Regions from separate parts of the Homo sapiens genome. Here regions 1 and 3 are each linked to region 2. The links come from fine-mapping of genetic effects on gene expression. A gene starts in region 2. Each other region holds a variant in brackets. All regions are shown on one strand. Distances are between the middles of the regions. Region 1 overlaps NOXA1 (NADPH oxidase activator 1). Region 2 holds the start of NSMF (NMDA receptor synaptonuclear signaling and neuronal migration factor). Region 3 overlaps EXD3 (exonuclease 3'-5' domain containing 3).

Region 1 (9,663 bases), 24 kb after region 2:
TCCTCCTTGCCGCTCCGGGAAGTGGGCAGCCAGCCCAGGTGAGGGTCCAAAGGGATGTCCTGGGGGGGCTGTCCTGGTCTGGGGGGCTGTCCTGGTCTGGGGGGCTGTCCTGGTCTGGGGGGCTGTCCTGGTCTGGGGGGGCTGTCCTGGTCTGGGGGGCTGTCCTGGTCTGGGGGGGCTGTCCTGGTCTGGGGGACTGTTCTGTCTGAGGGGGTGTCCTGGTCTGGGGGGGCTGTCCTGGTCTGGGGGGCTGTCCTGGTCTGGGGGGCTGTCCTGGTCTGGGGGGCTGTCCTGGTCTGGGGGGGCTGTCCTGGTCTGGGGGGCTGTCCTGGTCTGGGGGGGCTGTCCTGGTCTGGGGGACTGTTCTGTCTGAGGGGGTGTCCTGGTCTGGGGGGGCTGTCCTGGTCTGGGGGGCTGTCCTGGTCTGGGGGGCTGTCCTGGTCTGGGGGGGGCTGTCCTGGTCTGGGGGGCTGTCCTGGTCTGGGGGGGCTGTCCTGGTCTGGGGGGCTGTCCTGGTCTGGGGGGGCTGTCCTGGTCTGGGGGACTGTTCTGTCTGAGGGGGTGTCCTGGTCTGGGGGGGCTGTCCTGGTCTGGGGGGCTGTCCTGGTCTGGGGGGGCTGTCCTGGTCTGGGGGGGGCTGTCCTGGTCTGGGGGGCTGTCCTGGTCTGGGGGGGCTGTCCTGGTCTGGGGGGCTGTCCTGGTCTGGGGGGGCTGTCCTGGTCTGGGGGACTGTTCTGTCTGAGGGGGTGTCCTGGTCTGGGGGGCTCTCCTGGTCTGGGGGGGGCTGTCCTGGTCTGGGGGGCTGTCCTGGTCTGGGGGACTGTTCTGTCTGAGGGGGTGTCCTGGCCTGGGGGGCTCTCCTGGTCTGGGGGGGGGCTGTCCTGGTCTGGGGGGCTGTCCTGGTCTGGGGGGGGCTGTCCTGGTCTGGGGGCTGTCCTGGTCTGGGAATCTGTTCTGTGTGAGGGGGTGTCCTGGTCTGGGGGGCTCTCCTGGTCTGGGGGGGGCTGTCCTGGTCTGGCGGGGGCTGTCCTGGTCTGGGGGGCTGTCCTGGTCTGGGGGGCTGTCCTGATCTGGGAGTCTGTTCTGTGTGAGGGGGTGTCCTGGTCTGGGGGGGCTGTCCTGGTCTCAGGGACTGTTCTGTGTGAGGGGATGTCCTGGCCTGGGGGACTCTCCTGGTCTGGGGGGGCTGTCCTGGTCTGGGGGGGCTGTCCTGGTCTGGGGGGCTGTCCTGGTCTGGGGGGGCTGTCCTGGTCTGGGGGACTGTTCTGTCTGAGGGGGTGTCCTGGTCTGGGGGGCTCTCCTGGTCTGGGGGGGGCTGTCCTGGTCTGGGGGGCTGTCCTGGTCTGGGGGACTGTTCTGTCTGAGGGGGTGTCCTGGTCTGGGGGGCTCTCCTGGTCTGGGGGCACTGTCCTGGTCTCGGGGGGGCTGTTCTGGTCTGGGGGGCGCTTTCCTGGTCTGAGGAGCTGTTCTGATCTGGGAGGCTGTTCTGGTCTTGGGGGTCTTTTGAGTGTGGGAGAGGTTGCCCCAACCTCTTTGCCTACCTGGAGGCTCAGGCCTGGGGGTCTCAGGTGGCTACATCTTCTGGGTGTGGAGTCCCTGTGTTCCTGGCCCCTGTCACCTGTTTGTCCCTATGAGGTGGCCTATGGCCTGGGTGCTGGTTGGGGACACAGGCTGGGCCCTGTCTGGGCTGGACCGGCCTCCTGTCCTCTCTGAGCCTCTGTCATCTACCCTCCTTAAAATGGGCTTATATCCCCCGGACATACAGAATTGCGTGAGGACCCCACAGCGTGTCCCACTTTCCACGTGCCCAGGAGCCCCAGGTCAGGACCAGGGCAGCACCCGCGCCTGCCACTCAGTGTGGGTGCAACGTTTCCCGGGGGAACACGATAGGACACGGTCACATGGGGTTCAGGTGCCGGGACCTTGGCAGGCAGCCTCTGGCTTTGACCACTCCTTTGGCAGTGGTACCCGTGTGAAGTGGGGCTGTATGGGGCACAGGGTCGGCCTGGGGTAGTTTGAGAGCTGAGACCCTTGCTGGGCGTTTGGGCAGAGGAGGAGGTGGACACCTCGGCCACAGGGCTAGAGAAGCCCAGGCCCCTCAGATGGCATCCCTGGGTCCACCTCCCGACCAGGCGCCATCTGGCACCAGCTAAGAAGGTGCAGAGTCAGATTAGGGAAGCCTTGGGCTGGATTTCCAGAGAAACCGATGTTGTTAAGAAGCCTCACACTCGGCTTCCTAGGATGGCTGGCCTCACCCTGGGTTCACCCACAGCCCCTCGGCAACAGTCCCCTCAGGGCTCCAGAGAGAAACCCCCACCCTAGGAGTGCCTGGGGTGGGGGCCGCAGAGAGGAGGCAGAGCCCTGGGCCCCCAGTGCAGGCTGGAGCTGTGGCTGCTCCTGGGGAGGGTGGCACGGGAGAGGCAGGACCGAGGGGTGGGGACACAGGGTGGCCCCATCACATGGTGGGGGCAGCTCCGCGAGTCCCATCCGAGGGGGTCCGAGGGGGCTACTTGGATCCTGCTGGGGCTGTGTCCCCAGACGAGGCCTCTGCTGCCCCCCGCCCCCCTCCCACAGGGCCCTCTGATGCCCATGGCACCCCTGGCAGGCGTGGCTCCTGGGGAGTGGTCCTTGGCCACGGGAGGCGTCTGAGCCCCGGGGATGCCTCTATGGCCACGGGAGACCGTCTGAGCCCCGGGGATGCCTCTATGGCCACGGGAGGCCGTCTGAGCCCCGGGGATGCCTCTATGGCCACGGGAGGCCGTCTGAGCCCCGGAGATGCCTCTATGGCCACGGGAGGCCGCCTGAGCCCCGGAGATGCCTCTAAGGCCACGGGAGACCGTCTGAGCCCCGGGGATGCCTCTATGGCCACGGGAGGCGTCTGAGCCCCGGAGATGCCTCTAAGGCAAGTGGCTGTCCAGGGGTGCGTCTCCAGGGAGACGGGGAGCGAAGCCTCTGCCTCTGGAGGGCGGGATGGGGACACCAAGTGCAGCCTGGGTGCCCACGGCCGTCCCCCCACAGGAACCAGTACCACCTGCACCATGGGGCTGTCCCGGAAGGAGCAGGTCTTCTTGGCCCTGCTGGGGGCCTCGGGGGTCTCAGGCCTCACGGCACTCATTCTCCTCCTGGTGGAGGCCACCAGCGTGCTCCTGCCCACAGACATCAAGGTGCGTCCCCGCCGGCAGGGGAGGCCGGGCCGGGTCCACAGGTGTTGCCTCCCACTCATCCCACTGTCTCCCCAGTTTGGGATCGTGTTTGATGCGGGCTCCTCCCACACGTCCCTCTTCCTGTATCAGTGGCTGGCGAACAAGGAGAATGGCACGGGTGTGGTCAGCCAGGCCCTGGCCTGCCAGGTGGAAGGTTAGTGGGCTGTTCTGCAGCCCGGTGCTGGGACCTGCCTGTTGCTGCCTGGCTGGGATTCCCAGCTGCACGGAAAGGGTTTGGAGAGGTTCAGTGACTTGGCTGAGCTCACACGCCGGGCATGGGTGCTGGGCCGGAGCCTGCGTTCACGCGGTGGCACTCTGGGGACCTCCCTGCCTGATCCTGGTGAGCAGTCAGATTCTCATGGCCTGGCCTGGGTCTGCCCAGCATCTGCTGCCTCCAGCCCTGACCCTCTCTGGCCCCTGGTGCTCCCCACCCTGGCACCACGTGGTGCTGGCAGCCGAGGCTGGTAGTTACAGGGGTGCCTGCACTCCAGGATCCTGAGAGGGGAAAACAGGAGGCCCCGAATTTGTTTCCTGGGGGCTCTGGTAACAAATTACCACAAATTGGGGGCTTAAAACAGTAGCAGCTTATTTCTCAGCATTCTAGAAGTCTGAAAACAAGGTGTGGACAGGGCCGCACCCCCTCCAGAGGCTCTGGGTTAGGGTCCTTCCTGCTTCCTTCAGCCTGAGCACTCCACGCAGCCCTTGGCTGGTGGCTGCACCAGGGGGCATGAGGTGGTCATGTCTTTGGGGGCTACCTTTCAGCCCAGCCAGCCTGCGGGGTCTGGAGCTCTGTCCCCGGCTGCTGTTCCAGGGCCTGGAATCTCCTCCTACACTTCTAATGCTGCACAGGCTGGTGAGAGCCTGCAGGGCTGCTTGGAGGAGGCGCTGGTGCTGATCCCAGAGGCCCAGCATCGGAAAACACCCACGTTCCTGGGGGCCACGGCTGGCATGAGGTTGCTCAGGTGAGGCAGGCATGGCCTTGGCACCCACGGGGAGTGGCTGCAGAAGCCATGGTCTCAGCCAGCGTGGCAGGCAGGGTGGGGCCGGGCCCAGGCTTCCAGCCAGCTCCAGCCCCTGGTCCTCTGTGCCCAGCCGGAAGAACAGCTCTCAGGCCAGGGACATCTTTGCAGCAGTCACCCAGGTCCTGGGCCGGTCTCCCGTGGACTTTTGGGGTGCCGAGCTCCTGGCCGGGCAGGCCGAAGGTGCCTTTGGTTGGATCACTGTCAACTACGGCTTGGGGACGCTGGTCAAGGTGCCACAGGCTGCCTGAGGGCGGGGGCTGGTCTGCGAGGGGCTGGTGTCTGGGGCTGGCTGACCGGGACGGGGTCCGGGTGGCTGCTCCCAGCTGAGTGGCCCCTTCTGTGCCCAGTACTCCTTCACTGGAGAATGGATCCAGCCTCCGGAGGAGATGCTGGTGGGTGCCCTGGACATGGGAGGGGCCTCCACCCAGATCACGTTCGTGCCTGGGGGCCCCATCTTGGACAAGAGCACCCAGGCCGATTTTCGCCTCTACGGCTCCGACTACAGCGTCTACACTCACAGCTACCTGTGCTTTGGACGGGACCAGATGCTGAGCAGGCTCCTCGTGGGGCTGGTACAGGTCAGCTGGCCCTGGGGAGGGTGCATGGGGCTGTGGGAACAGGGCTATGGGCACAGGGCTGGCGTGGGTCATCCGGCCCCGGGGAGGGGGCACAGGGTATGGGCGCGGGGCTGGCGTGGGTCATCCGGCACCGGGGAGGGCGCACAGGGTATGGGCGCGGGGCTGGCGTGGGTCATCCGGCCCCGGGGAGGGGCACAGGGCCGCAGGTGTGCGGCTGGTGCTCAGGCCTCCCTGCCCTCTGCAGAGCCGCCCGGCTGCCCTGCTCCGTCACCCGTGCTACCTCAGCGGCTACCAGACCACACTGGCCCTGGGCCCGCTGTATGAGTCACCCTGTGTCCACGCCACGCCCCCGCTGAGCCTCCCCCAGAACCTCACAGTTGAAGGGACAGGCAACCCTGGAGCCTGCGTCTCAGCCATCCGGGAACTTTTCAACTTCTCCAGCTGCCAGGGCCAGGAGGACTGCGCCTTTGACGGGGTCTACCAGCCCCCGCTGCGGGGCCAGTTCTATGTGAGCACCTACACTGCCCCCACCAGGGGTCCGGGCTTCCTTGTGAGGCCTCAGGTGCCTGTCTGACTCCAGCAGGCCCAGGAGGGGCCCAGGCTGGCTCTTAGGGGCTCTGGGAGCCCGGGTGGGGTGGATCTGGCCCAGCGTGGCCACAGCGAAGGCACAGCCACCTCCCCTCTCACTCAGGCCTTCTCCAACTTCTACTACACCTTCCACTTCCTGAACCTCACCTCCAGGCAGCCCCTGAGCACGGTCAACGCCACCATCTGGGAGTTTTGCCAGAGGCCCTGGAAACTGGTGGGTGGGCCCTGGGCTCCCTGGCTGCAGCGAGGGTCCCTGAGGGTACAGGGCTGCCTCGGGCAGGATGCTGGAGCCTCATTCTGGGCAGCACGGCCAGCAGGGCCGGGGGAGGCAAGGGCAGAGGACAGCTCCAGGCCGTGCCACTCCAGGTAGGAGGCTGTGGCCACGGC[C/T]GCAGCTGGGCCCAGCCTCTGGCCCGCCAAGAAGGGGCCGCAACCCGCACCACGTAACTGGTCGGTGGGGCCAGGGAGGGGCTCTCTACCACTGCCCGGCACCCTCTTGTTGTCTGCGTGCTCAGGTTGGCCAGGACAGATGGGGCGGTCCCCGCATGACTGGGGATCAGGGGCCCTCACCTCGCCTCTTGGTCTCCTGGGCCCCAGGTGGAGGCCAGCTACCCTGGGCAGGACCGCTGGCTGCGGGACTACTGTGCCTCAGGCCTGTACATCCTCACCCTCCTGCACGAGGGCTACGGGTTCAGCGAGGAGACCTGGCCCAGCCTCGAGTTCCGAAAGCAGGTGACTGCCTCCCCTGGGCGTGGGCGGGGCGTGGGCGTGGGCAGGTCGTGGTCCTGGGGTAGCTGCCCCGCAGCCCTGAGCAGCCGTGTGTCCCGCAGGCGGGCGGTGTGGACATTGGCTGGACACTGGGCTACATGCTGAACCTGACCGGGATGATCCCGGCCGATGCGCCGGCTCAGTGGCGGGCAGAGAGCTACGGCGTCTGGGTGGCCAAAGTGGTGTTCATGGTGCTGGCCCTGGTGGCGGTGGTGGGGGCTGCCTTGGTCCAGCTCTTCTGGTTGCAGGACTAGTGGGAAGGCGGAGGTGGGCCCCCACAGAGCCCACAGGCAGCTGCGTCCCGGATGCTGGAGGCTTCCTGAGCCCTGAGCGCCGTGGGGCCTTGCTCTGTGGCTCTGCCCACGGTCAGGTGACAGCCACCTCCAGGGCACCGTCAGGGTGGTGCTGGCCACAGAGGCTGCATGACCTCCCCTCCCGGCGTCCCTCCCCCAACCTCCTTCCGCAACTGGGCTTCCAGGGCCGTAGGTGCCTTTCTGCACACAGGCCGCCAGGACTCGTGGTGTCTCCAGGCTGTGTGACTGCAGGGCCACATGCTGCCTGCAAACAGGGCAAGACCACGGAGGCACAGGGGTCCTGCTCCTGATGGGGCCTCAGGAGGGGCGGAGAGGGGTGGAAGGGAGGGAGCTGCCCCACCTGGACCCCCGCTCTCCCTGCTGTTGTCTGAGCAGATGGATGGAGTCCAGGCCTGGGGGCTTCTGCTGGGCCAGCCCGGCCTCCCACACCCACTTGGAGGGTGAGACTGCAGTGGGGGTTGTTTTTATTAAAAGCATCATGGACACAGCATCATTAGGGCTGATCTCCCTGCTGGGATCGGGGCAGGCGGCCGGGGGCTCCTGACATCCGAGGGCCGGCGGGGACCACGAAGCACTTGGGGAAGATGCCGATGCGGCCGTCACAGTGGCCCTCCAGCCATGCCTGGTCCACTGCAAGGGGGACATCGGGCTCTGCAGGGCGTTACCCAGGCGTGGCCTCTGGGTGCCACGTCTGCTCACAGCACAGGCCGAGCTCTAAGCCCCCCACACCCCGGGCACCACGGTGCTGCCTGGGAAGGGCCATGCCCACCCTACCTTCACACAGGACGTCCACCGTGTCCCCCTGTCGGAAGCCCAGGTCCTCTGGCCCCTGGGCGGAGTAGCTGTGCTGGGCCACCACCTGGTAGAGGACCGGCCGACCCCCGGCTCCCTGAGGCAGGAGAGTGGGCTGCAGGTCGGGCCGGGCACTGGGAGGAGGGGCCTCCACCGCCCCTCAGGGTGCCCCTGCCCCTGCCTCGCCCTTGGCTCACCCTGCACTGCAGCTGCAGCCCCCTGGGGCAGGCAGCTGCGTCCTGCCAGGCCCTCTGCAGCGACTCCTCCTCGGGGATGGGGACCCAGTGCCCGTCCTCACCTGGGGCTAGGTAACTGCAAAGAGATTCCTCAGAGGGGGCCTCCTGGGTGGGGCCTGCAGGGAGGGCAGTGACCTCTGCCACCCCCTCTTCCAGCAGCTGCCTCAGTCGGGGCGGTGCCCAGCTCCACCGCAGCCACCGGGGGCTTTCTGGCCCACCTGAGTTGCCCAAGCTGGGCCTGGTGAGGGAGGGCTTGGCCCAGCAGTGCCCGCAGGCTGGACAGGTCGGCTCCTCTTCGTGCCCTCAGGGCCACTGTGAAGGCGCACTGCACGGTGACAGTCACCAGGGGCTCGGAGCCCCCTGCACCTGCTCCCTGGGTCCAGGCAGGAGGGGGAGGGGTGGTCGCTGAGGCCCAGGGCCTGGTCAGGGCCGTCTTCAGCCCGAGGGGTGTGGACAGAGACTGGGCAGGTGAGGGGGGCTTGCAAGCCTTGATTCTGAGGGATGGGGCTTGGCCTCAGCCTCCCTCAGGTGACTGACAGGTGAAGGGTCTAGAGCCTCTTACCCCAGCACCCGCGGGGTCCTCACAGGGGCCGGGGCCAGGCCCCCCCATTGCCGGCAGCCCTGTAGGACAGAGCAAGACTGACACAGCCACTACCACCAAAGTGGGCCCTGTGGGTGGAGGGCAGCCGGCACCCATGCACCAGCAGCTTCCTCCTTCACCCGGGGACCCCGCCGCTGAGGACGCCCATACCTGGGGAGAGAGGAGCCTGTTTGCCAACTTGCTCCACCTGGGGCCTCTGCAAGAGAAGCACAGGCTGGGTGGGCTGGGGCGGTCAGGTGCTGGAGGCCGGTACTGTCCTCGCAGAGCCCACACCAAGGGTGTGGCCTGTGTGCCCGGCCAGCACCCAGCAGGTGGTCTGTGGGTGTTGAATTCAGGGCACTGGCCACAAGTCGGCTGCCTTAGGATGGGGCTGGGTCCCTGCAGACCTAGAGGCTGCCTGTCACCAGGAGGGAGCGCCCCGTCCCCCAAGGCCCACCGAGGTGGCAGCTCCAGGTGGGTGGGCTCCCCAGTGACCCCAGGAAGCTGAGGACCCAGTCCCTGGGCCCCGGCCTCTGTGTGGGCTCGACATTAACCGTGTGCCCTGAGTTGGGCACTGAGCAGGAGACCAGTTCACCAGCTGCAAGTCACAAAGTCACAGCCCAGCGCTGGCTAGACCCTGAGGGTCAGGCATTGCTGTTGTTTTTTGAGAGGGAGTCTCGCTCTGTCGCCCAGGCTGGAGTGCAGTGGCGCCATCTTGGCTCACTATAAGCTCCGCCTCCTGGGTTCACGCCATTCTCCTGGCTCTGCCTCCTGAGTAGCTGGGACTACAGGTGCCCGCCGCCATGCCCAGCTAATTTTTTGTATTTTTTAGTAGAGACAGGGTTTCACCATGTTAGCCGGGATGGTCTCGATCTCCTGATCTTGTGATCCGCCTGCCTAGGCCTCCCAAAGTGCTGGGATTACAGGCGTGAGCCACTTCGCCTGGCTTTTTTTTTTTTTTTTTTTGAGACAGGGTCTTGCTGTCTTGCCCAGGCCGGAGTGGAGTGGCACTGTCATGGCTCACTGCAGCCTCCACCTCCCAGGCTCAAGCAATCCTTCCACCTCAGCCTCCCACGGTGCTGGGATTACAGACCACTGTGCCCGGCCTCGATTGTAACTTATTATTAGATTTATCAGATGGTTGAAGTTGCCTTAGGTTAGGAAGGACGAGAGCTTAAAGGCCCATCGTGGGAACTGGGCAAATAGTTCCAAACCCTGAGGGAATTAGTGAAGCACAGCTTGGAGGGCGCCCTTGCCCCCGGGATGCCACGGTTAAACTGGAAGTGGGCATCCATAAAGAGAGAGTGCCGGGGCTGCTTCCTGATCGCATCCTCAGATGCGCTCAGCGTGAAATGCAGGTGCCTTCTCTGGGCCTCCCGGATCCTGCAGCAGAGCCTCCGCCCACGGCTGCCACCCTGGGAGCAGCTGGGGTTCCTGCCTTCCTCCGCCTCTCCCCAGGTGCCGGGGTGTCCGGGAGGACTCGGGGGATGGAGTCGCTGCTGGGCCCCCATGGGGGGCGGGAGCCTTGGGGCCCCTCCAGAGCTGTCCTGCCTCCCGCCTGTCCCCAGCTGGGTCACTCCTGGTC
Region 2 (10,709 bases):
CCCCAGCAGCGAGTCCCAAGGCCACTGACACCTTCTCCCCTCTCTGTTCAGAAATGTTTCTTTCCCTAAAATGAGTCACCTAGTCACCTTCAGCGTGGCTGCTCAAAAGAGGGCTTGGGGACTGGCATGCAGCAGGACGGCCCCAGGGACAGCGTCCTCGGGACAGAACCCGCCATGGGCAGAGGTGGCTCCGAGCCGGTCCTGTCCCAGAGTCACCTGGTGGCCCTCTCCCTGTCCCTCCGTCTGTGGGTCTGGGGCTGGGGGGCCAGGTGTGGGAATGGCCAGAGCTCTCTGGGCTGGTCCTCTTTCCGTGCTGGGATCACTGGGCCCTGGGAACTGGCCGGGGCAAGGTGAGGCCGGGGCTGTGTGCCTGCCCCTCATGCTGAGGAGAGGGGACAGTGGGCGTGTGGTCTGGCTTATCTCTGTGAGCCCCTCTGGTACTGGGCAGGGGCTTCCTCAGGGAAGGACCGGGGTCTCCTCTGCCTGTGGCCGAGGCGTTCTCACTGCCTGCATCACACGGTGTAAGCACGTCCAGCCCACACTCCAAGCGCTTCCCTCCCAGCCTCCGTCCCCTGAGCCCTGGCTCACTATGGCAGGGAAGACCCTTCCTCTCCATCCACACTGGGCATTGAGGCTAGTTTGAGGTCAGTCTCGAGTCCTGCCTGCCTCACTGAGGAAGGATGGGCCCCAGGCCCACCCAGAAGGAACCCAAGAGAGCCCGGCTTCCCCGGGACCCCTGATGGAGTACCGCAGTGGCATGTGAGCCAGGGCTGGGTGGCTCTGACCTTCCCGAAAGCAATCCACTGTGTCCCCCTGGCCCAGGAACCTCATGTGCCCAGCAGCCCGCCCCGAGCTCTCCTCCTCGCTGACCCTCCAGCCACGGGCATGGGCAGGCCTTGCCCCAGAGCTGAGCAGGCAAAGCCGAGGAGGCCCCAGGCATGGGGGCGCTGCAGAGCCTGCGAGGGTAGGGCCAGCGAGGGCTTAGGGATCAGGAAGGGACCGAGGGTGGGCTGTGTCCTGGCTTTCAGGCCCTGGGGCGACCACCAGCCTCTGCTCACTCTGAGGCTCCAGCCAGGGCGCCAAGCCTCAGGACCGTGGGTGGGGCCCAAGGACACTCTGGACCCCCGTTCCATTCATGAGAGGCCCTCAGCACGCCACGTGTCTGCTGTGGCAGCCCGCAGGGAGGGTGGAAGCCTTCTGTAAATTCCACATGTGGCCCCAGGGCATGACGTCCTTGATGAAGGCCGCGCTGGACCTCACCTACCCCATCACGTCCATGTTCTCCGGAGCCGGCTTCAACAGCAGCATCTTCAGCGTCTTCAAGGACCAGCAGATCGAGGTGCACCCCCACCCTCAGGAGCCCATGCAGCCCCCAGTGCCTGTCCCCTCCTGGCCCCCCACCTCTTGGCCCTGGGTCAGCCTCCCCAGACACAGGACAGGAGCGTGATGGGAGAGGGCCCATCTGAGCCCCGTCCGCCCGCAGGACCTGTGGATTCCTTATTTCGCCATCACCACCGACATCACAGCCTCGGCCATGCGGGTCCACACCGACGGTGAGCACTCCTGCTGCGCAGGGCGGCCGCTTGGGTGCGAGGTGTGGGCAGGGGGAGAGCTCAGCAGCCCCAGGGGTTGGGAAGGCCGCGGGGTCTCCTGAAGGATGCAGACGTATGGGCAGCTTTGTCCATGGAGGACACAGGATGCCCCTACTAGGGGCACAGACAGGAGGGGGCGTGGCCTGGGCCAGAGACCTCAGAAGGCTGGAGGAGACCCTCACAGAATCAGCAATGTTGGGCTAGACTGATGGATACCATGTGAGAGGACAAAGTGAGGGGCTCCCTGAGTCCTGGGGTGAGGGGCTCACCTGGTTCAGGGGGATGAGGGGTTCACTCGGTCATGGGGTGAGGGGCTCCCTCAGTCCTGGGGTGAGGGGGTCACAGCAGTTCGAAGTCCTGGGCACATGTAATGCAGTGCGACCCCAGAGAAAGAACTCAATTTTGTTCAGCCCTTGGGCCATGAGCTTCCCTCTGTGGAGGCGGCCTCAGAGAGTTGGGACCTACCAGCTCCAGGACTGCAGTGGCAAGGCCCTGAACCCTGGACCCAGGAGGAGCCTCCTCCGGGTAACCAGCAGCTCCGGGCCCCCTCCCCAGGCTCCCTGTGGTGGTACGTGCGTGCCAGCATGTCCCTGTCCGGTTACATGCCCCCTCTCTGTGACCCGAAGGACGGACACCTGCTGATGGACGGGGGCTACATCAACAACCTCCCAGGTACTGCGGTGGGGGGACCACGCCCGGCAGGAGCACAGGCTCCTGGGTCACGCCGCCCCACGGCCCCTGCCACAGCTGCCTCCGCTCCAAGAAGCCTGGGCTGGAACACGTTTTCCTTAGAGTATGCCAAGGGAAAATGTCAGGCTGGCATCAGAGCTCCGAGAACATGCACACGCGTGTACATGCACACGCAGGCACCGGCAGCATGTGCTCCAGCATATGGCCCTGTTTGTCAGCTCAGCAGCATGCAGAACAAAGGCCAAGTCGAGGAACTGGGAGCAATTAAGCCCCATCTGTGCCCACAGTCAGAAACTAACAGCCTGCAGGTGTCGAGCTTGCTGGGGGCCAGGCCAGGCCACTCCTGTCACCTGTGGGATATACGGTCAGAAAGGCCCAGGACACAGCCGTGTGCCCACAGCTGCCCATCGAGCTGGGCATGTGGGTCTTCTGCCTCTAGAAGGTGTAATGGCGGAGAGGAGACCCCACAACCCCCACGTCAGGGCTCGGAGAGGCAGGCTCTGCCCCCGTCCCCTGGCTCTGCATGCCTGTCCAGGGGGTAACCAGGGCTGGCTTCTCCCTAGCGGATGTGGCCCGGTCCATGGGGGCAAAAGTGGTGATCGCCATTGACGTGGGCAGCCGAGATGAGACGGACCTCACCAACTATGGGGATGCGCTGTCTGGGTGGTGGCTGCTGTGGAAACGCTGGAACCCCTTGGCCACGAAAGTCAAGGTGGGGTGCTACCGGGCAGGCTGGGCTGTCCCTGCTGCTCCTCCCTGCAGCTCCACACCTGTCCTGCGGCAGGGGAGTGGGGGTCGCTCCTGGGCTCTGAGGCCAGCAGGTCTGGGGCCACCCCTCACCACCCCTGCCTGAGCCCAACTCGGGCGAAGGAAGGCACGAGGCCGGACGGGCCTGAAGGCTGTGGCAGCCCGCAGGGAGGACCCCCGGCCGGGTGCTGCTACCCTCTCCCCCCAGAACCTACCTACCCCAGAGGATGGGTCCCCAGAACCTGTCCTGCGCCACGGGCCAGGCTGGGACGGGGTAGGGGCCGGGGCAGGAGACTCAGGCGGCTGTGACGGCAGCAGGTGTTGAACATGGCAGAGATTCAGACGCGCCTGGCCTACGTGTGTTGCGTGCGGCAGCTGGAGGTGGTGAAGAGCAGTGACTACTGCGAGTACCTGCGCCCCCCCATCGACAGCTACAGCACCCTGGACTTCGGCAAGTTCAACGAGATCTGCGTGAGTGCCGGCCACCCGCGGCGGCGGAGGCGGGCGGAGGCACTCTGGTGGCTGCCCCTCCTCGCTTCCCCCTTTTGAGAACACAGGAAGTGGGGGGCTCCCCACACCTCCTGACGGGGCCCTGGGGGTGTGCACAGGAAGTGGGCTACCAGCACGGGCGCACGGTGTTTGACATCTGGGGCCGCAGCGGCGTGCTGGAGAAGATGCTCCGCGACCAGCAGGGGCCGAGCAAGAAGCCCGCGAGTGCGGTGAGTACGGGCGTCCGGACCACGCCCAGCTCCCCGGACCGCGCCCAGTTCTTCGGGCCACGCCCACGCCCAGTTCATCAGGCCACGCCCAGCTCCTCAGGCCACAGGCCCTGCCCCCCTGGCCAAAGACTCCAGGGCCAGGACAAGGATTGCTCAGGACTGCGCATCTCCCCGGTCCCTGCCCTTACTTGGGGGGCAGGCGGAGGCTGCAGAGAGGGCGCAGGGTGGGTGGGGCCTCCCCACAGGAAGCAGGCTGGGGACTGGCAGGCGGGTGTCCACAGGCAACGTGCTGTCCTCACCCCACCCCTAGGTCCTCACCTGTCCCAACGCCTCCTTCACGGACCTTGCCGAAATTGTGTCTCGCATTGAGCCCGCCAAGCCCGCCATGGTGGATGGTGAGTGGAGGCGCAAGACGAAGCCGTGGAGACGTGCGTGACCTCCTGATGCTGTGTTGGGCTTGAACCCCCCCACCCCAGAGGCCCACGGCCTCCCCTCCCGCCCACGTCCACGCCCAGGCTCCAGCAGCTGGGGTGCTTGGTGGCACTCCTCCGTCCCGGGCACCACGTGTTCCCACAGCAGTGGGACTGTGACCACCCCGGGTCACCCAGCCCCTGCCCTTCATTCACCTCAACTCCCAGCCACACCTCAGGCCTGAAGTAGAACCACGTTTTGCCTCCCACCCCACCCAGTGGGAAATGGGAATGAAGGCTGCTTGTTGGAGGGGCCGCAGGACAAGAAGGGCGGGTCCACTACCCTCCATGCTCCATCCAGGGCCCTGCGCTTGGGCCTTCAGCCAGTGGCCTCCTCACAGCAGAACTGGACATTCTCCTGGGAGACGTCTTCATGGCTGCCGCAGGCCGAGAGGGCCCTGGGCAAGGCAGCCCCTATCCACAGTTGCCAGGTCTGGGGTGCTGGAGCCCTCAGGGTGCTTGGCTGACAAGGGGAGGAGTGTCTGCCCGCTCCTTGTCCTTGTGGAAGACCCACGAAGTGATGTGCTGGGGCAAAGCTGGAGCCAGACAGAACCAGGGGTGGTGTGCAGGGCTGCCCTGGGACCAGGTGGCTGCGTGTAGGGCCCCGGGCCACCTTGGAGGCGGGGGTGGGCATCTGTGGCCGGTTCTGCCTCTGAGTGTGGCTATGCTGGGTACGGTCCCTTCCTTGGGAGGGGACTGACGCAGCCCTACCCTCGGTGCCAGACGAATCTGACTACCAGACGGAGTACGAGGAGGAGCTGCTGGACGTCCCCAGGGATGCATACGCAGACTTCCAGAGCACCTCAGCCCAGCAGGGCTCAGACTTGGTGAGGAGCTGGGCATGGTCCCACCTGGTGCCCACAGCTGAGCCTTGGTGCCTGGCCCTGTGCCGGCCACTCCCTCCCTGTGGTCCCACCGGGTTACCAGCGCTGCAGAGCCCCTGCCCTGCCTGGTCCTCACCTGGAACATGCGGTCTGCTTGCAGGAGGACGAGTCCTCACTGCGGCATCGACACCCCAGTCTGGCTTTCCCAAAACTGTCTGAGGGCTCCTCTGACCAGGACGGGTAGAGGCCTCTGCTAAAGAGCCCGGATGCAGCGTCTTCCGTGGGACTGTCCCCAAGGCTGAGGCTCCTGCCAAGTCCTAGGGGCCTCTGTACCTGCCCTGCTGGAAGCCCTGACTTCCCCGGGGCCCCAGGCTGTGTTAGGGTTCTCTGGGCCTCTTCTTTGTACCAGCAGCCCTGCATACAGGGCCCTGTGAGCCCCCCTGCAGTCCTGTGAGGCCCCTGAAGCTCTGTGAGGCCCCTGAAGCTCTGTGAACCCCCTGCAGCCCTGTGAGGCCCCCCGAAGCCCTGTGAGGCCCCCCGAAGCCCTGTGAACCACCTGCTGCCCTGTGAGGCCCCCAAAGCCCTGTGAACTGCCTGCTGTCCTGTGAACTGCCTGCTGCCCTGTGAGGTGTGGGAGCCCTGATGCTGCCGTGTGATGTTTCAATAAAGGTGGATCTCACTGTTGGACGTGTCTCCCGGGCCGAGGTCCCTGTGGCAAAGAAACACTACTGGTTCTCCCTGATGCGGGTGGTCCCTGAGGCTGGGCAGTCCCCAGTCCTCCTCAAAGGACCCCACTGCTGGGGCCTGAGAGCCCTAGGGCGGCAAATGCAGGCCAGGCAGGTAGGGCGTCCAGAGTCTGCATAGAGCTGTGGCCCCCCAGGACCAGGACGGGCCCCTCTGTCTCTCTCTGGCCTCGTGCAAACTGGGTGCCCCCTAAACTGGCTTCCCCTTCGGTTTCCAGTTCCCAAACTGCACAGGGAGCCCTTTTGTGTAAGGGGAGGGAGAACCGGCCTCCCTGTGATCCTGCAGGTCTGAGCAGCAGATCGTGAGGGCCGAGGGCCCAGGACTTTGCGACCAGGGGGCCGCTGGCCTCAGTTTCCCCGCTCTGGAGGCCTGGACGAGAGGGCGCGGAGCCAGGCCGCCCGGCCCCGCCCCCAACTCAACCCGGGCCCGGACGTCACGGTGGGCGGGGCCACATGTCCTCTCCGAGCTCTCCGGGGCCCTGACGTCACGGTAGGTGGGGCCGACCGCCCCTCTGGGCCCGCCCGGGCCCTGACGTCACGATGGGCGGGGCCGGCCCTCGGTTCGGGCAGCGCTCTCCCGGGAGCGGCGGCACGCGCGGAGCGCCGGGTGCGGCCATGCGGGGACCGGGCCCGACCCCGAGCCCGACCCCGAGCCCAAGCCCGAGCCGGAGCCCGAGCGAGACCCCGAGCCCGAGCCCGAGCGCGACCCCCGGTGCGGCGCGGCTACCCCGGCGGAGGCGGCGGGCGCGGGGCGCGCTCTGAGGCCCGGGGGATGCGCCGCCGCCTCGACCATGGGCGCCGCCGCCTCCAGGAGGAGGGCGCTGAGGAGCGAGGCCATGTCCTCGGTGGCGGCCAAAGTGCGGTGAGTGCGGCGGGGCCGCCTTCCCGCACCCCGCCCTGGACCTCCGACCCCGCCCGAGTCCGCCCCTGCCCCGCGGTGCTCCCCGGGCTCCCGGGCCCCGGCCTCTGCCACTGAGGCGCCCTCCCCGCGCCCCGCGCCTCCCTCTTCCTGGTCCCCTGCCCTGCTCTTCCCTCCCCTCCCCTCGCGAGCGCGTGGTGGGCGAGCGCACCCCCCAGGTCGGGAGTGGCCTCGGTTCCCCCGGGGAACAGCAGCCGACCGGCCTCGCGACCCCTCTCCACGGTCCGACGGGCAGGGGCCGGGCCTGCAGGCCTGGCCAGGGCGCACCAGGACCAAGGGTGTGTGGGCTCCCGGAGGGGGACGACCCCGACCCTCCTTCCAGACGCCGAGGGCCTGGCTGGGGACCGGACCCCCGGCTCTTGCGCGGCCCGGTGTTTGGGAGGGTCGTGCCGTGGCCTCTGACCGTGCCCTCTGTCCACCCTCAGAGCAGCCCGAGCGTTTGGAGAGTACCTGTCCCAGAGTCACCCTGAGAACCGCAACGGCGCAGGTAGGGGCACGCGAGGCCGTGCCAGGGCCGCCCAGACCCCCCAGCCCAAGGGATGCTGATCCCTGCCTCCGGGGGTGGAGCGTGAGGGGCATTGGTTGCGCGTGGGCCCGGCGCCCTGCCGGCCTGGCTTCCTTACATCCCCTGCCCTCCCTGCCCGAGCCCCAGGAGCAGTTCCCAGCCGCTCGTCACCATGGCACCCACCCCGCCTGGGCCGTTGGCATGGCAACAGGCCTCCTGGCTCCCCCAGGGCTGGCACCACTGCCTCTGGGGGCCAGCTGGTGGGGGGAGGGGGAAGTTGGCACCAGGCAAACGGTGCGATCGCAGGCTGGGGGATGGCCTGCGTGTTCCTACCCGGCAGGACCGCACACAGGTAGCACAGCGTCACCCAGCCCCCACGCACATGCTAGAGCTTCAGGCCCAGATAGGAGTGAGGGGCTCAGAAACACGCCAGTGACTAGGGTTTGGGCAGCCCTAGTCCCCCACAGAGGCCAGGTGCCCACTGGGTGTTCTCTGCCTTCGGCCTGCTATGAAACCGGCAGCGGGGGGCCCACACGCGGCAGGCAGGCTCACTCAGTGTCTCTCCTAGATCACCTGCTGGCTGATGCCTACTCTGGCCACGACGGGTCCCCCGAGATGCAGCCGGCCCCCCAGAACAAGCGCCGCCTGTCCCTCGTCTCCAACGGCTGCTACGAGGGCAGCCTCTCAGAGGAGCCCAGCATTAGGAAGCCCGCAGGCGAGGGCCCTCAGCCTCGAGTGTACACCATCTCTGGGGAGCCTGCCCTGCTGCCCAGCCCTGAGGCGGAGGCCATTGAGCTGGCGGTGGTGAAGGGGCGGCGGCAGCGGCACCCTCACCATCACAGCCAGCCCCTGCGCGCCAGCCCTGGTGGCAGCCGGGAGGACGTCAGCAGGCCCTGCCAGAGCTGGGCGGGCAGCCGCCAGGGCTCCAAGGAGTGCCCCGGATGTGCCCAGCTGGCTCCTGGCCCCACCCCTCGGGCCTTTGGGCTGGACCAGCCACCTCTGCCTGAGACCTCCGGTCGCCGCAAGAAGCTGGAGAGGATGTACAGCGTTGACCGTGTGTCTGGTGAGGGGTTTGTGTCAGGGCATAGACAGGTTTGGGGGTGCATGCCGCTGCCAGGGTCTGACAGCAGCAGCCACTGTGAGGCTTGGAACAGAGAACAGGTGCTCAGGTCACAGCATGCCAGCGGACTCAAGATTAAAACCGGCAGGCTTCTGCTGCGGCCTCCACACCCTATGAGCTGTGAGCTCCCTCAGCTCCTCAGCAAAATCTGCCAGGCCTCACAGTCCGCTTTCGCCCTGCTAGCACCAGGTCAATCAAGGAGTGCTTCCTGGAGGAGGGGGCCTGGGAGGATCTTAAGGGATATGTAGGGAGGAAGCACCGCTTAATCAGGAGACTGGGCTGCCCTCCGAGAGTCCTGGGGAGCTGTTGGGGCCCAGCCAGGCAGTGGGCATCTTTCCCCAGGGTTGTTGAGTTGTGTGGTAGCTTGTCCACCAGGCAGAAAGTCACTCCACTGTCCCCACACTTGGGCATCAGGGAAAGGCTGTGGGGGCCCTCGGAAGGGGACAGCCCTCAGCAAGGTGGTCTCTAGCCTCGGTGAGGGCCTCCAGCTAGAGCATGGGGGCTGCAGAGAAGGCCTCAGAGCCTCTTCTGCCCAAGGGAAACAGACGCATTGTTTTCCTGGGCCTCCTGGAGACAGACTGTGCTTTCAAAGGAATGTTTCTCAAACTTTGGGTGGCCAAAGGGAAAGTTAAGCCAAAAAAATCAAAGCGTCAAGTTACCAAGAGCGTGGTCTTGGTGAGTGAGCAGCAGACATTCGAGCACTGCCCTCTGTGCCCGTGTGGGGATGCCACCCTCCCCCCACCCGCCCTGGCTGCCAGCTTCTGCTGACCCCTGGACCCAGAAGCATCTGCTTCCCAACAGGGAGGGAGAGGCTTCAGGAACCCCTACTTCACCCAGCCACCGCTCCTTTTTGTCTCTCTTAGACGACATCCCTATTCGTACCTGGTTCCCCAAGGAAAATCTTTTCAGCTTCCAGACAGCAACCACAACTATGCAAGCGTGAGTCTTGTGCCCACGACTTGGGGTCAGGGTTGGGTGGTCTCTTTCTGCTGCTCAGGAAACAGCACTTTTTCCCAGTCTCTGGGCCTACCAGGGGGGCTGCTTCTGAACAGACCCACGTGCCTATGCTGTGCCAGGCCTGCCAGGGAGGCCAGGGCTGACTGCTCTTCCCCTCCCATGGCTGGTGCCCAGCCCCCCCCCCCACACACACACAGTCAGGGGACCTGGCCCAGGGCTGCAGCTGATGAGCTCTCAGTGGGGTGTGGGGTGTGGCAGGTTCTCCTGCTCCTATCCACTCTCCTCAGCCTGTGTCTGCCCTCCCTCAAACCCCAAATAGAAGCCTACTTCTGTTTCATACGTGCCATAGGTCATCACAGTTTCAGGGTCCCCGCAGGGACCTGCTCCTCTCTGTCTTGACATACATTTGGCTTTTCTGTTCTGGGATTCCTTCCAGGGAAGTTCCCTTTGCTGCATTGGTCCCCACACCAAAGAAGTGTCCTGCCCGGGGGAGTCCACCCCACACCCAGCCTCAGGCTGCCTGGTCTCAGCAACCAGTCCTTGTGGCATGGGCTGCAGTGACATCAGCTTCCGTTGCCCATTCAGGGCTGGCCAGCAGTGTAGCCAGCATCCTGCTGGTGGCTGGGTTACCTGTGAGGGACCTATTGGGTCAGTGACAAGAAGGGAACTGTAGGGACCGGGTGGGGGCTGAGGGGAGGCCCGGGGTTGAGCTCACTGTGTCTTCTCTCTCACGCCATCCCTTCTGGCCCTGGCTTCAGCATCTCGTAAGTACCTGTATGACTTGGTGCCTAAGGGCACAGCTGTTGTCCCTGGGGAGACCCTCCCACCCCAAATAGGTTTGGGCAGGCCAGGGACCTGGGTCTTGAGGGAGTGCCGCTCTCTGCGGGCCTGGCTCCCAGCGGGCACCGAGGTCGCAGCAGGGCCTGCTGGGAGCTGGGCCTCGACAGGTGAGGCAGGCTGGGACTCCTCTGCCGGGCCCCGTGCCCCAGACGCCCTGCTGGGCCCTCTGCTCGCACCACTGTCCCGACGTCTGTGTCCCTCCTGCCTCCGGCCAAGGGCAGTGCTGACTCGCGGTGGTTTCCCAGGGTGTTCAGGGGCTACGCGGAGAGGAAGCGCCGGAAACGGGAGAATGATTCCGCGTCTGTAATCCAGAGGTAGGGCCTGCCAGCCACTCGCCACCAGGGTCCATCTCTGGTCTGTGCTGGCCTGGCCTGGGCCCCCTCGGCCCTGGCAGACCTGATGGGGGAAGGGTGGTGGCGACCACTGGCCTGGCCCTGCTCTGGGGACGTGGCAGGCAGGAGAGGCCATGTGGCCCGGGCTGCAGGAAAGCATCTCACCCTCAGTCCTGCACTCCGAGGGCACGTGTCTCTGTCTGGGCTGGGGCCAGCAGCAAGGCCCCCCTCCCCCACTCCAATCACACAGA
Region 3 (10,709 bases), 130 kb after region 2:
GATTATAGGTGTGAGCCACCGCACCCAGCCTAAATCATCTTTATCCTATTTACTTTTCTGCCTGATTCTACCAAGAGAGACATACAGAAGGTTCCTGTGATGGTACATTCATCAGATTTTCCATGCAGTTACGTCAGTGTTTGCCTTATATGTTTTAAAGTTATGTTAGTAGGTGCATATGCATATTATTATTAGAATTCTTATATCTTTCTGTTGTGTGAAATCTTTTATAATTATGTGGTGAACCTCTTTGACTCCAGTAATGCTCTTTGCTATAAAATATATTTTAACTAACATTAATACCATTTCTCCATTATTCTTTGGTTATTACTCGTAAAGCACTTTTTCATCCTTTTACTTTCAACCTTCTTTTATATAGTAGGTGTGTTTCTTGTAAACTGTTTCTAGTTGGGTTTTTTAAAAAAATCTAGTCTGACAGTCTTTGCCTTTTAACTTATTAGTTTAGTCCTTTTATGTTTATTGTTAAGTATTGATAGAATTTGGGTTTAGTCGTACTATCTTAATTTGTGCTTTCTATTTGTACAACTTTTTCTATTCTTTTTCCTCTTTTTTTTCATGCTTTTAGCTTTTTTACCTTCATTCTATTTTTCCTTCAGTCAATTTGAAAGCTATAAATTCTATTGCTATTGCTTTCCTTGTTTTCTTAAAATATGCATATTTTGCCATGGATTTATTTCTTTTCTTTGTAGGGATTGCCCTAGAATTTTTTTTTTTTTTTTTTTTAGACGGAGTCTCACTTTGTCACCCAGGCTGGAGTGCAGTGGCACAATCTCGGCTCACTGCAAGCTCCGCCTCCCAGGTTCAAGCAGCTCTGCCTCAGCCTTCTGAGGAGCTGAGACTACAGGCACCCAGCACCACACCCAGCTAATGTTTGTATTTTTAGTAGATATGAGGTTTCGCCATGTTGGCCAGGCTGGTGTCGATCTCCTGACCTCAAGTAATCCACCTGCTTCAGCCTGCCGAAGTGCTGGGATTACAGGCGTGAGCCACCACACATGGCCGAGAAATGTTAACACGTATATTTGAGTTAACGATATCTAAAGTTACAGTTAAGTCAGGGATCTTACATCGATTTATGTTTCATATATTTCAATAGCTTTTGGGGTACAAGTGGCATTTGGTTACATGGATGAATTGTGTAATGATGAAGTCTGATACGTTACTGCACTGTCACCCAAATGGTATATATTGTACCCAATATGTCGTCTTTTTATCCCTTACTCCTCCTCCTGCCCTCCCCACCTCTGAGCCTCCAGTGTCCATTATATCACTCTGCATGCCTTTGTGTACCCATAGGTTAGTTCCCACTTATAAGTGAGAACATGCAGTATTTGGTTTTCCATTCCTGAGTTACTTTATTTAGAATAATGGCCTCCAGATCCATTCAAGTTGCTGCAGAGACATTATTTTGTTCTTTTTTACGGCTGAGTAGTATTCCATGGTATATATATACCACATTTTTTTAATCCACTCATTGCTTGATGGATACTTAGGTTAGTTCCATGTCTTTGCAGTTGTGAATTGTGCTGTGATAAACATGTGCGCAGGTGTCTTTCTGATATAATGACTTCTTTTCCTTTGGGTAGATACTCAGTAGTGGGACTGCTGGAGCACACGGTAGATCTGCTTTTAGTTCTTTGAGAAATCTCCATGCTGTTTTCACAGATGTTGTACTAATTTATTTATTTATTTATTTATTTTGAGATGAAGTCTAGCTCTGTTGCCAGGCTGGAGTGCAATGGCGCGATCTTGGCTCACTGCAACCTCCGCCTCCCGGGTTCAAGTGATTCTTCTGCCTCAGCCTCCTGAGTAGCTAGGACTACAGGCACCTGCCACCACACCTGGCTAATTTTTTGTATTTTTAGCAGAGACCGGGTTTCACCTTGTTGGGCAGGCTGGTCTCGAACTCCTGACCTCGTGATCCGCCCGCCTTGGCCTCCCAAAGTGCTGGGATTATAGGTATGAGCCACCACGCCTGGTCTTTTTTACATTTTAATAATGTCTATTCTGGCTAGGGCAAGGTGGTATCTCATTGTGGTTTTAATTTGCATTTCCCTGATGATTCGTGAGGTTGAGCGATTTTTCACGTTTGCTGCGTATCTGTATATCTTCTTTTGAGAAATGTCTATGCATGTGTCATTTGCCCATTTTTTGATGGGATTCTTTGTTTTTTTCTTGCGGATTTGTTTGAGTTCCTTGTAGATTCTTGATATTACCTCTTCGTTAGATGCATAGTTTGCAAATATTTTCTTCCATTCTGTGGGCTATTTGTTTTTATTTTGTTTGTTTTTTTTTTTCCTTTTGAGACAGAGTCTCGCTCTGTCACCCAGGCTGGAGTGCAGTGGTGCAATCTCTGCTCACTGCAACCTCTACCTCCCAGATTCAAGTGATTCTCCTGCCTCAGCCTCCCGAGTAGCTGGGACTACAGGCGCCTGCCACCATGCCCGGCTCATTTTTTGTATTTTTAGTAGAGATGGGGTTTCACTGTGTTAGCCAGGATGGTCTCGATCTCCTGACCTCGTGATCCGCCCGCCTCGGCCTCCCAAAGTGCTGGCATTACAGGCGTGAGCCACCGGCCTTGTGGGCTGGTGTTTTCTCTGATGATTATTTCTTTTGCTGTGCAGAAGCTTTTTAGTTGAATTAGGTCACATTTATTTATTTTTGTTTTTGTTGCATTTGCTTTTGTGGTTCTAGTCAAAACTGTTTGCTTAAGCCAATGTGCAGAAGAGCTTTCCTAGATTTCCTTCTAGAATGTTTATGGTTCGAGTCTTACATCTAAGTCTTTCATCCATCTTGAGCTGGGTTTTGTATATGGTGAGAGGTATGGATCCAGTTTCATTCTCCTACATGTGGCTAGCCAGTTTTCCCAGCACCACTTACTAGATAGGGTGTCTTTTTCTCCAACGGATGTTTATTTATACTTTGTCAAAGATCCGTTGATTGTAAGTATTTGGCTTTATTTCTGGATTCTCTATTCCATCCCATTGGTCTATGTATCTACTTTTATACCAGTACTATGCTGTTTTGGTAACTATACTGTATTAGTCCCTTCTCACATTGCTATAAAGGAATACCTGAGGCCAGGTGCAGTGGCTCACGCCTGTAATCCCAGGACTTTGAGAGGCAGAGGTGGGCGGATTACCTGAGGTCGGGCGTTCGAGACCAGCCCGGCCAACATGGTGAAACCCCGTCTCCACTAAAATACAAAAAATTAGCCGGGTGTGGTGGCGGGTGCCTGTAGTCCCAGCTACTCGGGAGGCTGAGGCAGGGGAATCGTTTGAACCCAGGAGGTAGAGATTGCAGTGAGCCGAGATCACGCCACTGCACTCCAGCCTGGTGACAGAGCGAGACTCCATCTCAAAAAAAAAAATTTGCTGGGCTTGGTGGTGGGCGCCTGTAGTCTCAGCTACTCGGGAGGCTGAGGCAGGAGAATCACTTGAACCTGGGAGGCGGAGGTTGCAGTGAGCGGAGATGACGTCACTGCACTGTACTCCAGCCTGGGTGACAGAGTGAGACTCTGTCTCAAAAAAAAAGAAAAGAAAAGAAAAAAAGAAATACCTGGGACTGGGTAACTTATAAGAAAAGAGGTTCAACTGGCTTATGGTTCTGGAGGCTGTACAGGAACCGTATCACTGGCATCTGCTTCTGGGAGCCTCTGGAAATGTCTAGTCCTGGCAGAAGGCAAAGCAAGAGTTTGCATGTCACATGGTGAAGGCAGGAGCGAGAGAGCAAGAGGGGACGCGCTACGCACTTTTAAACGACCAGGCAAGGACAGGACCAAGGGGGACAGTGCTAAGCCACTCCTGAGAAATCCTCCCCCATGATCGAGTGGCCTCCCTCCAGGCCAGGCCCCACCTCCAACACCGTGGCTTGCATTTCAGGATGAGATTTGGGCGGGGACACATTCAAATTATACCACAGAGCCTTGTAGTATAGTGTCAGCCAGGGTTCTCTAGAGGGACAGAACTGATAGGATAGATGTGCATACGAAAGGAAGTTTATTAAGGAGAGTTGACTCACAGGATCACAAGGTGAAGTCTCACCCAGGCCGTCTGCAAGTTAAGGAGCCAGGAAGCCAGTGGTGGATCCGTCTGAGTCCCAAAACCTCAAAAGCAGGGAAGCTGGCAGTGCAGCCTTCAGTCTGCCGCCAAAGGCCCGAGAGCCCCTGGCAAACCGCTGGTGTACGTGTAAGAGTCCAAAAGCTGAGGAACTTGGAGTCTGATGTTCGAGGACAGGAAGCATCCAGCACGGGAGAAAGATGGGGCCGGAAGCCTCAGCAAGTCTGCTCTTCCATCTTCTCCTGCGTGCTTTATTCTAGCCGTACTGGCAGCTGATTAGACGGTGCCCACTGAGGGTGGGTCTGCCTCTCCCCGTCCATGGACTCAAATGTGAATCCCCTTTGGCAACACCCCCACAGACACATCCAGGATCAATACTTTGCATCCTTCAATCCAGTTGACACTCAATATAAACCCTCACAAGTATAATTTGAAGTTGGGTAATGTGATGCCTCCAGATTTGTTTTTTGTTTTTTGACAGACAGAGTCTCAGTCTGTCGCCAGGCTGGAGTGCAGTGGCGCAACCTTGGCTCACTGGAATCTCCGCCTCCTGGGTTCAAGGGATTCCCCTGCCTCAGCCTCCCAAGTAGCTGGGACTACAGGCGCCCGCCACCATGCATGGCTAGTTTTTTTGTGCTTTTTAGTAGAGACGGGGTTTCACTGTTTTAGCCAGGATGGTCTCGATCTCCTGACCTTGTGATCTGCCCGCCTTGGCCTCCCAAAGTGCTGGGATTACAGGCGTGAGCCACTGCGCCTGGCCAATACCATGTACCCTTTAACAATCTCGGCTCACTGGAACCTCCGCCTCCCAGGTTGAAGGGATTCCCCTGCCTCAGCCTCCCAAGTAGCTGGGACTACAGGTGCCCACTACCATGCCCGGTAATTTTTTGTATTTTAGTAGAGATGGGGTTTCACCATGTCGGCCAGGCTGGTCTCGATCTCCTGACCTTGTGATCCACCTGCCTCGGCCTCCCAAAGTCCTGGGATTACAGGCGTGAGCCACTGCGCCCGGCCTAGATTCGTTCTTTTTCCTTAGGACTGCTTTGGCTATTCAGGCTCTTTTTTGGTTCATACAGATTTTAGGATTGTTTTTTCTAAT[G/T]CTGTGAAAAACGATGTTGGTACTTTGATAGGAATTGCACTGAATCTATAGATTGCTTTGGGCAGTTTGGTTATTTCACAATATCGATTCCTCCAATTCATGACCATGGGATGTATTTCCATTTGTTTGCGTCATTCATGATTTCTTTCAGCAGTATTTTGTAGTTCTCCTTGTAGAGTCTTTCACCTCCTTGGTTAAGTACATTCCTAGGTTTGTTCTGTGTGTGTGTGTGTGTTGTCGTTGCGCAGATATTGTAAAAAGGATTGAGTTCTTTTTTCACTTTTTTATTTATTTATTTTTATTTTTTGAGACGGAGTCTCACCCTGTTGCCCAGGCGGGAGTGCAGTGGCGCCCTCTCGGCTCACTGCAACATCCACCTCCCGGGTTCAAGCAATTCTCCTGCCTCAGCCTCCTGAGTAGCTGGGACTACAGGCGTGCACCACCACACCTCGCTAATTTTTGTATTTTTAGTAGAGACGGGGTTTCACCATGTTATCCAGGCTGGTCTCAAACTCCTGATCTCAAGTGAGCCACCCACCTGGGCCTCCCAAAGTGCTGGGATTACAGGCGTGAGCCACCGCGCCTGGCCTGAGTTCTTGGTTTCCTTCTCAGCTTGGTCGTTGTGCTACTGATTTGTGCACATTTATTTTGTAACCTGAGACTTCACCGAATCCATTTGTCAAATCGAGGAGTCTTTTGGAGGAGCCTTTAGGGTTTTCGAGGTATACAGTCATAACATTGGCAGAGATAGTTTGACCTCCTGTTTTCCCATTTGGATGCCCTCTCTTTCTTGTCTTTCCTGATAGTTCTGGTCAGGACTTTGAATACTATGTTGGGTGGGAGGGTGAGTGTGGGAGGGTGAGAGGGCATCCTTGTCTTGTTGCAGTTCTCAGGGGGACTGTTTCCACTTTTCCCCATTTAGTATGATGTTGGCTGCGGGTTTGTCATATATGGCTATTATCATTTTGAGGTATGTTCCTTCCAAGCCTAGTTGGTTGAGGATTTTTATCGTAAAACAATGCTAGATTTTGTCAAGTGCTTTGTATGCATCTACTGAGATGATCGTGTAGTTTTTGTTTTTAATTCTGTTTAGGTGATGAATCAAACTTACTGACTGGCACATGTTGAACCCCCCTGAATCCCTGGGATGAAACTCACTCGGTCATGGTGAATTATTGCTTTAATGTGCTGTTGGATTCCGTTTGCAGGGTCAACTTGTCTTTCATACCTTCCCTGCTGTCATCTTCCAGAATGTTAACACGATGCTGTCTTCCTTAATTCTGCAAATTAGACATTATCATGTTTGTTTTATGGTCTTGACGTCTTTTAGTGTTGATGATGTGTGGACCACTTGTTGCATGGCAGACCTTCCTCTGGGAAATGACAAACTCCTTCGTGTTAATGAATTTTCCTTGTTCTTTAATTGGGGCCATTTTTCCTTTCTAATAAGCTCTGTTTCCTCTTTCTTGAAAGAGAGTGTTGCCGGGTTTATTCTTGTAGCTCTACAGAACTTTGAAAACCCTCCACTACCTTTTGGCTCCATTGTTGCCCTCGAGAAGTCCATCAGTCCTGTGTAGCTCCTGTGTAGTCCTGTGTAGTTCCTGTGTAGTCCTGTGTAGTCCTGTGTAGTCCTGTGTAGTCCTGTGTAGCTCCTGTGGAGCCCTGTGTAGCTCCTGTGTAGCTCCTGTATAGCTCCTGTGTGGTCCTGCGTAGTCCTGTGTAGCTCCTGTGTAGCTCCTGTGTAGCTCCTTTGTAGTCCTGTGTAGCTCCTGTGTAGTCCTGTGTAGTCCTGTGTAGCTCCTGTGTAGTCCTGTGGAGCCCTGTGTAGCTCCTGTGTAGTCCTGTGTAGCTCCTGTGTAGCTCCTGTGTAGTCCTGTGTAGTCCTGTGTAGTCCCGTGTAGCTCCGGTGTAGTTCCTGTGTAGCTCCTGTGTAGTTCCTGTGTAGTTCCTGTGTAGCTCCTGTGGAGCCCTGTGTAGCTCCTGTGTAGTCCTGTGTAGTTCCTGTGTAGCTCCTGTGTAGTCCTGTGTAGTCCTGTGTAGTCCCGTGTAGCTCCGGTGTAGTCCTGTGTAGCTCCGGTGTAGTTCCTGTGTAGCTCCTGTGTAGCTCCTGTGTAGCTCCTGTGGAGCCCTGTGTAGCTCCTGTGTAGTTCCTGTGTAGCTCCTGTGTAGTCCCGTGTAGCTCCGGTGTAGTCCTGTGTAGTCCTGTGTAGTCCTGTGTAGCTCCTGTGTAGTCCTGTGTAGTCCCGTGTAGCTCCTGTATAGCTCCTGTGTGGTCCTGCATAGTCCTGTGTAGTCCTGTGTAGTCCTGTGTAGTCCCGTGTAGCTCCTGTATAGCTCCTGTGTGGTCCTGCATAGTCCTGTGTAGTCCTGTGTAGTCCTGTGTAGCTCCTGTGTAGTCCCGTGTAGTCCCGTGTGACCCCGTGTAGTCCCGTGTAGTCCCGTGTAGTCCCGTGTGACCCCGTGTAGTCCCGTGTAGTCCCGTGTGACCCCGTGTAGTCCCGTGTAGTCCCGTGTAGTCCCGTGTAGTCCCGTGTGACCCCGTGTAGTCCCGTGTAGTCCCGTGTAGCCCCGTGTAGTCCCGTGTAGTCCCGTGTAGTCCCGTGTAGTCCCGTGTGACCCCGTGTAGTCCCGTGTAGTCCCGTGTAGCCCCGTGTAGTCCCGTGTAGTCCCGTGTAGTCCCGTGTGACCCCGTGTAGTCCCGTGTAGTCCCGTGTAGTCCCGTGTGACCCCGTGTAGTCCCGTGTAGCTCCCGTGTAGCTCCCGTGTAGCCCCGTGTAGCTCCCGTGTAGCTCCCGTGTAGCCCCGTGTAGCCCCGTGTAGCCCCGTGTAGTCCCGTGTAGCTCCCGTGTAGCTCCCGTGTAGTCCCGTGTAGCCCCGTGTAGCCCCGTGTAGCTCCCGTGTAGTCCCGTGTAGCCCCGTGTAGCCCCCTGTAGCCCCGTGTAGCTCCCGTGTAGCCCCGTGTAGCCCCGTGTAGCTCCCGTGTAGCCCCGTGTAGCCCCGTGTCGTCCCGTGTAGCCCCGTGTAGCCCCGTGTAGTCCCGTGTAGCTCCCGTGTAGCCCCGTGTAGCCCCGTGTAGCTCCCGTGTAGCTCCCGTGTAGCCCCGTGTAGCCCCGTGTAGCCCCGTGTAGTCCCGTGTAGCCCCGTGTAGTCCCGTGTAGCTCCCGTGTAGCCCCGTGTAGCCCCGTGTAGCCCCGTGTAGCTCCCGTGTAGCCCCGTGTAGCCCCGTGTAGCCCCGTGTAGTCCCGTGTAGCTCCCGTGTAGCCCCGTGTAGCCCCGTGTAGCCCCGTGTAGTCCCGTGTAGTCCCGTGTGACCCTGTGTAGTCCCGTGTAGCCCCGTGTAGTCCCGTGTAGTCCCGTGTAGCCCCGTGTAGCCCCGTGTAGTCCCGTGTAGTCCCGTGTGACCCTGTGTAGTCCCGTGTAGCCCCGTGTAGTCCCGTGTAGTCCCGTGTAGCCCCGTGTAGTCCCGTGTAGTCCCGTGTAGCCCCGTGTAGTCCCGTGTAGTCCCGTGTAGTCCCGTGTGACCCTGTGTAGTCCCGTGTAGCCCCGTGTAGTCCCGTGTAGTCCCGTGTAGTCCCGTGTAGCCCCGTGTAGTCCCGTGTAGTCCCGTGTAGCCCCGTGTAGTCCCGTGTAGTCCCGTGTAGCTCCTGTGTAACTAGTCTGTTTCTTCCCTTTGACCCGTTTCCTTTGGTTTTTTCCCGTATATTTACTTTATTTACCAGTTGTGTTTGTTTTTACTTTTGTTTTTACTCATCATATAGGTGTATATTAGTTGTTTTTACTCATCATATGAGTGTATATTAGTTGTTTTTACTCATCATATGAGTGTATATTAGTTGTTTTTACTCATCATATGGGTGTTTATTCGTTGTTTTTACTCATCATATGAGTGTATATTAGTTGTTTTTACTCATCATATGGGTGTTTATTCGTTGTTTTTACTCATCATGTGGGTGTTTATTTGTTGTTTTTACTCATCATGTGGGTGTATATTTGTTGTTTTTACTCATCATATGGGAGTATATTAATTGTTTTACTCATCATATTGGTGTATATTAGTTGTTTTTACTCATCATGTCGGTGTTTATTCGTTGTTTTTACTCATCATATGGGTGTATATTAGTTGTTTTTACTCATCATATGGGAGTATGTTAGTTGTTTTTACTCATCATGTGGGTGTTTATTCGTTGTTTTTACTCATCATATGGGAGTATATTAGTTGTTTTACTCATCATATGGGTGTATATTAGTTGTTTTTACTCATCATATAGGAGTATATTAGTTGTTTTACTCAGCATATGGGAGTATATTAGTTGTTTTTACTCATCATGTGGGTGTTTATTCATTGTTTTTATTCATCATGTGGGAGTATATTCGTTGTTTTTACTCATCATATGGGTGTATATTAGTTGTTTTTACTCATCATGTGGGTGTATATTTGTTGTTTTTACTCATCCTATGGGAGTATATTAGTTGTTTTTACTCATCATGTGGGTGTATATTTGTTGTTTTTACTCATCATATGAGTGTATATCAGTTTTTTACTCATCATATAGGTATATATTGGTTGTTTTTACTCATCATATGGGTGTATATTTGTTATTACCACGAAGTAACTACTTTCTGTTTCCCTTTTTTTCTTTCTTTTTGTGGTAAAACATACATAACACGAAATTGACCATTTTAACCATTTTTAAGTGTACAATTCAGTGGCATTAGCACATTCACTGTATCACATATCCATCACCACCACCCCTTTCCAGAACTGGGTATCATCCCAAAGACTCCATACTGGCCGGGCGCGGTGGCTCACACCTGTAATCCCAGCACTTTGGGAGGCCGACGCGGGCGGATCACAAGGTCAGGAGGTCGAGACCATCCTGGCTAACATAGTGAAACCCTGTCTCTATTAGAAATACAAAATATCAGCGGGCCGTGGTGGAGGGCGCCTATAGTCCCAGCTACTCAGGAGGCTGAGGCAGGAGAATGGCGTGAACCCGGGAGGCAGAACTTGCAGTGAGCCAAGATCGTGCCACTGCACTCCAGCCTGGGCGACAGAGCAAGACTCTGTCTCAAAAAAAAAAAAAAAAGACTCCGTACCAATAGTTATCTCCCCTCCCCTCCTTCTAGCCCTGGTGGCCACTGTTCCACTTTCTGCCTCTATGAATTGACCTGTCCTAGGTACCTCGTAGACGTGGAATCATATAGTATCTGCCCATTTGTATCTGGCATCTTTCACTCGGCGTGTCGTAAGGGTTTATTCACGACGTAGCCTGTGTCGGAACGTCCTTCCTTTTTTTTTTTGAATGTGGCTGCTACGAACACTGATGTATGAGGATGTGCTTGAGTTCCTGCTTTCAGTTCTTTTGCATATACAGCTAAAGGTGAAACTGCTGAATCCTCTACTGACTCTGTGTTTAACTTCTTGAGGAACCTTCACACTGTTTTCCACGGCGGCCACACCATTTACCTTCCCGCCAGTGACGCATGAGAGTTCAGTTTATCCACATCCCACCAACATTTATTTCCCTTTT

What was found. PIP is the estimated chance that this variant, and not a neighbour inherited with it, causes the effect.
Region 1: its variant is fine-mapped to the expression of NSMF in transverse colon (GTEx, PIP 0.99).
Region 3: its variant is fine-mapped to the expression of NSMF in blood mononuclear cells (TOPMed, PIP 0.94).

The regions. Positions count from the first base shown.
Region 1 is chr9:137,431,661-137,441,323 of GRCh38, reverse strand. It overlaps NOXA1 (NADPH oxidase activator 1), which reads right to left. Exons shown (of 14, transcript NM_001256067.2): 9 at 8,250-8,295; 10 at 8,061-8,119; 11 at 7,717-7,871; 12 at 7,460-7,574; 13 at 7,245-7,359; 14 at 6,918-7,100. The coding sequence ends at 6,964. It overlaps ENTPD8 (ectonucleoside triphosphate diphosphohydrolase 8), which reads left to right. Exons shown (of 10, transcript NM_001033113.2): 1 at 1-38; 2 at 3,019-3,164; 3 at 3,240-3,357; 4 at 4,015-4,165; 5 at 4,296-4,455; 6 at 4,573-4,803; 7 at 5,048-5,311; 8 at 5,495-5,605; 9 at 5,986-6,120; 10 at 6,219-6,960. The coding sequence starts at 3,039. The coding sequence ends at 6,410. Among named protein-coding and RNA genes, the nearest start is that of ENTPD8, 4.9 kb to the left of the region's middle. RefSeq lists silencers at 1-107, 5,014-5,063, 5,025-5,279. The variant C/T (reference allele first, on the strand shown) is at 5,779.
Region 2 is chr9:137,454,970-137,465,678 of GRCh38, reverse strand. It overlaps NSMF (NMDA receptor synaptonuclear signaling and neuronal migration factor), which reads left to right and starts at 6,345. Exons shown (of 16, transcript NM_001130969.3): 1 at 6,345-6,647; 2 at 7,130-7,191; 3 at 7,778-8,272; 4 at 9,193-9,268; 5 at 10,045-10,050; 6 at 10,372-10,440. The coding sequence starts at 6,577. It overlaps PNPLA7 (patatin like domain 7, lysophospholipase), which reads left to right. Exons shown (of 35, transcript NM_001098537.3): 27 at 1,223-1,339; 28 at 1,484-1,553; 29 at 2,148-2,264; 30 at 2,846-2,994; 31 at 3,348-3,500; 32 at 3,638-3,748; 33 at 4,059-4,143; 34 at 4,942-5,045; 35 at 5,203-5,727. The coding sequence ends at 5,286. RefSeq lists enhancers at 2,774-3,706, 3,707-4,640, 7,464-8,161, 9,943-10,709 and silencers at 6,115-6,464, 6,555-6,824.
Region 3 is chr9:137,326,692-137,337,400 of GRCh38, reverse strand. The region is part of intron 17 of EXD3 (exonuclease 3'-5' domain containing 3); the gene reads left to right. Among named protein-coding and RNA genes, the nearest start is that of NRARP, 30 kb to the right of the region's middle. The variant G/T (reference allele first, on the strand shown) is at 5,179.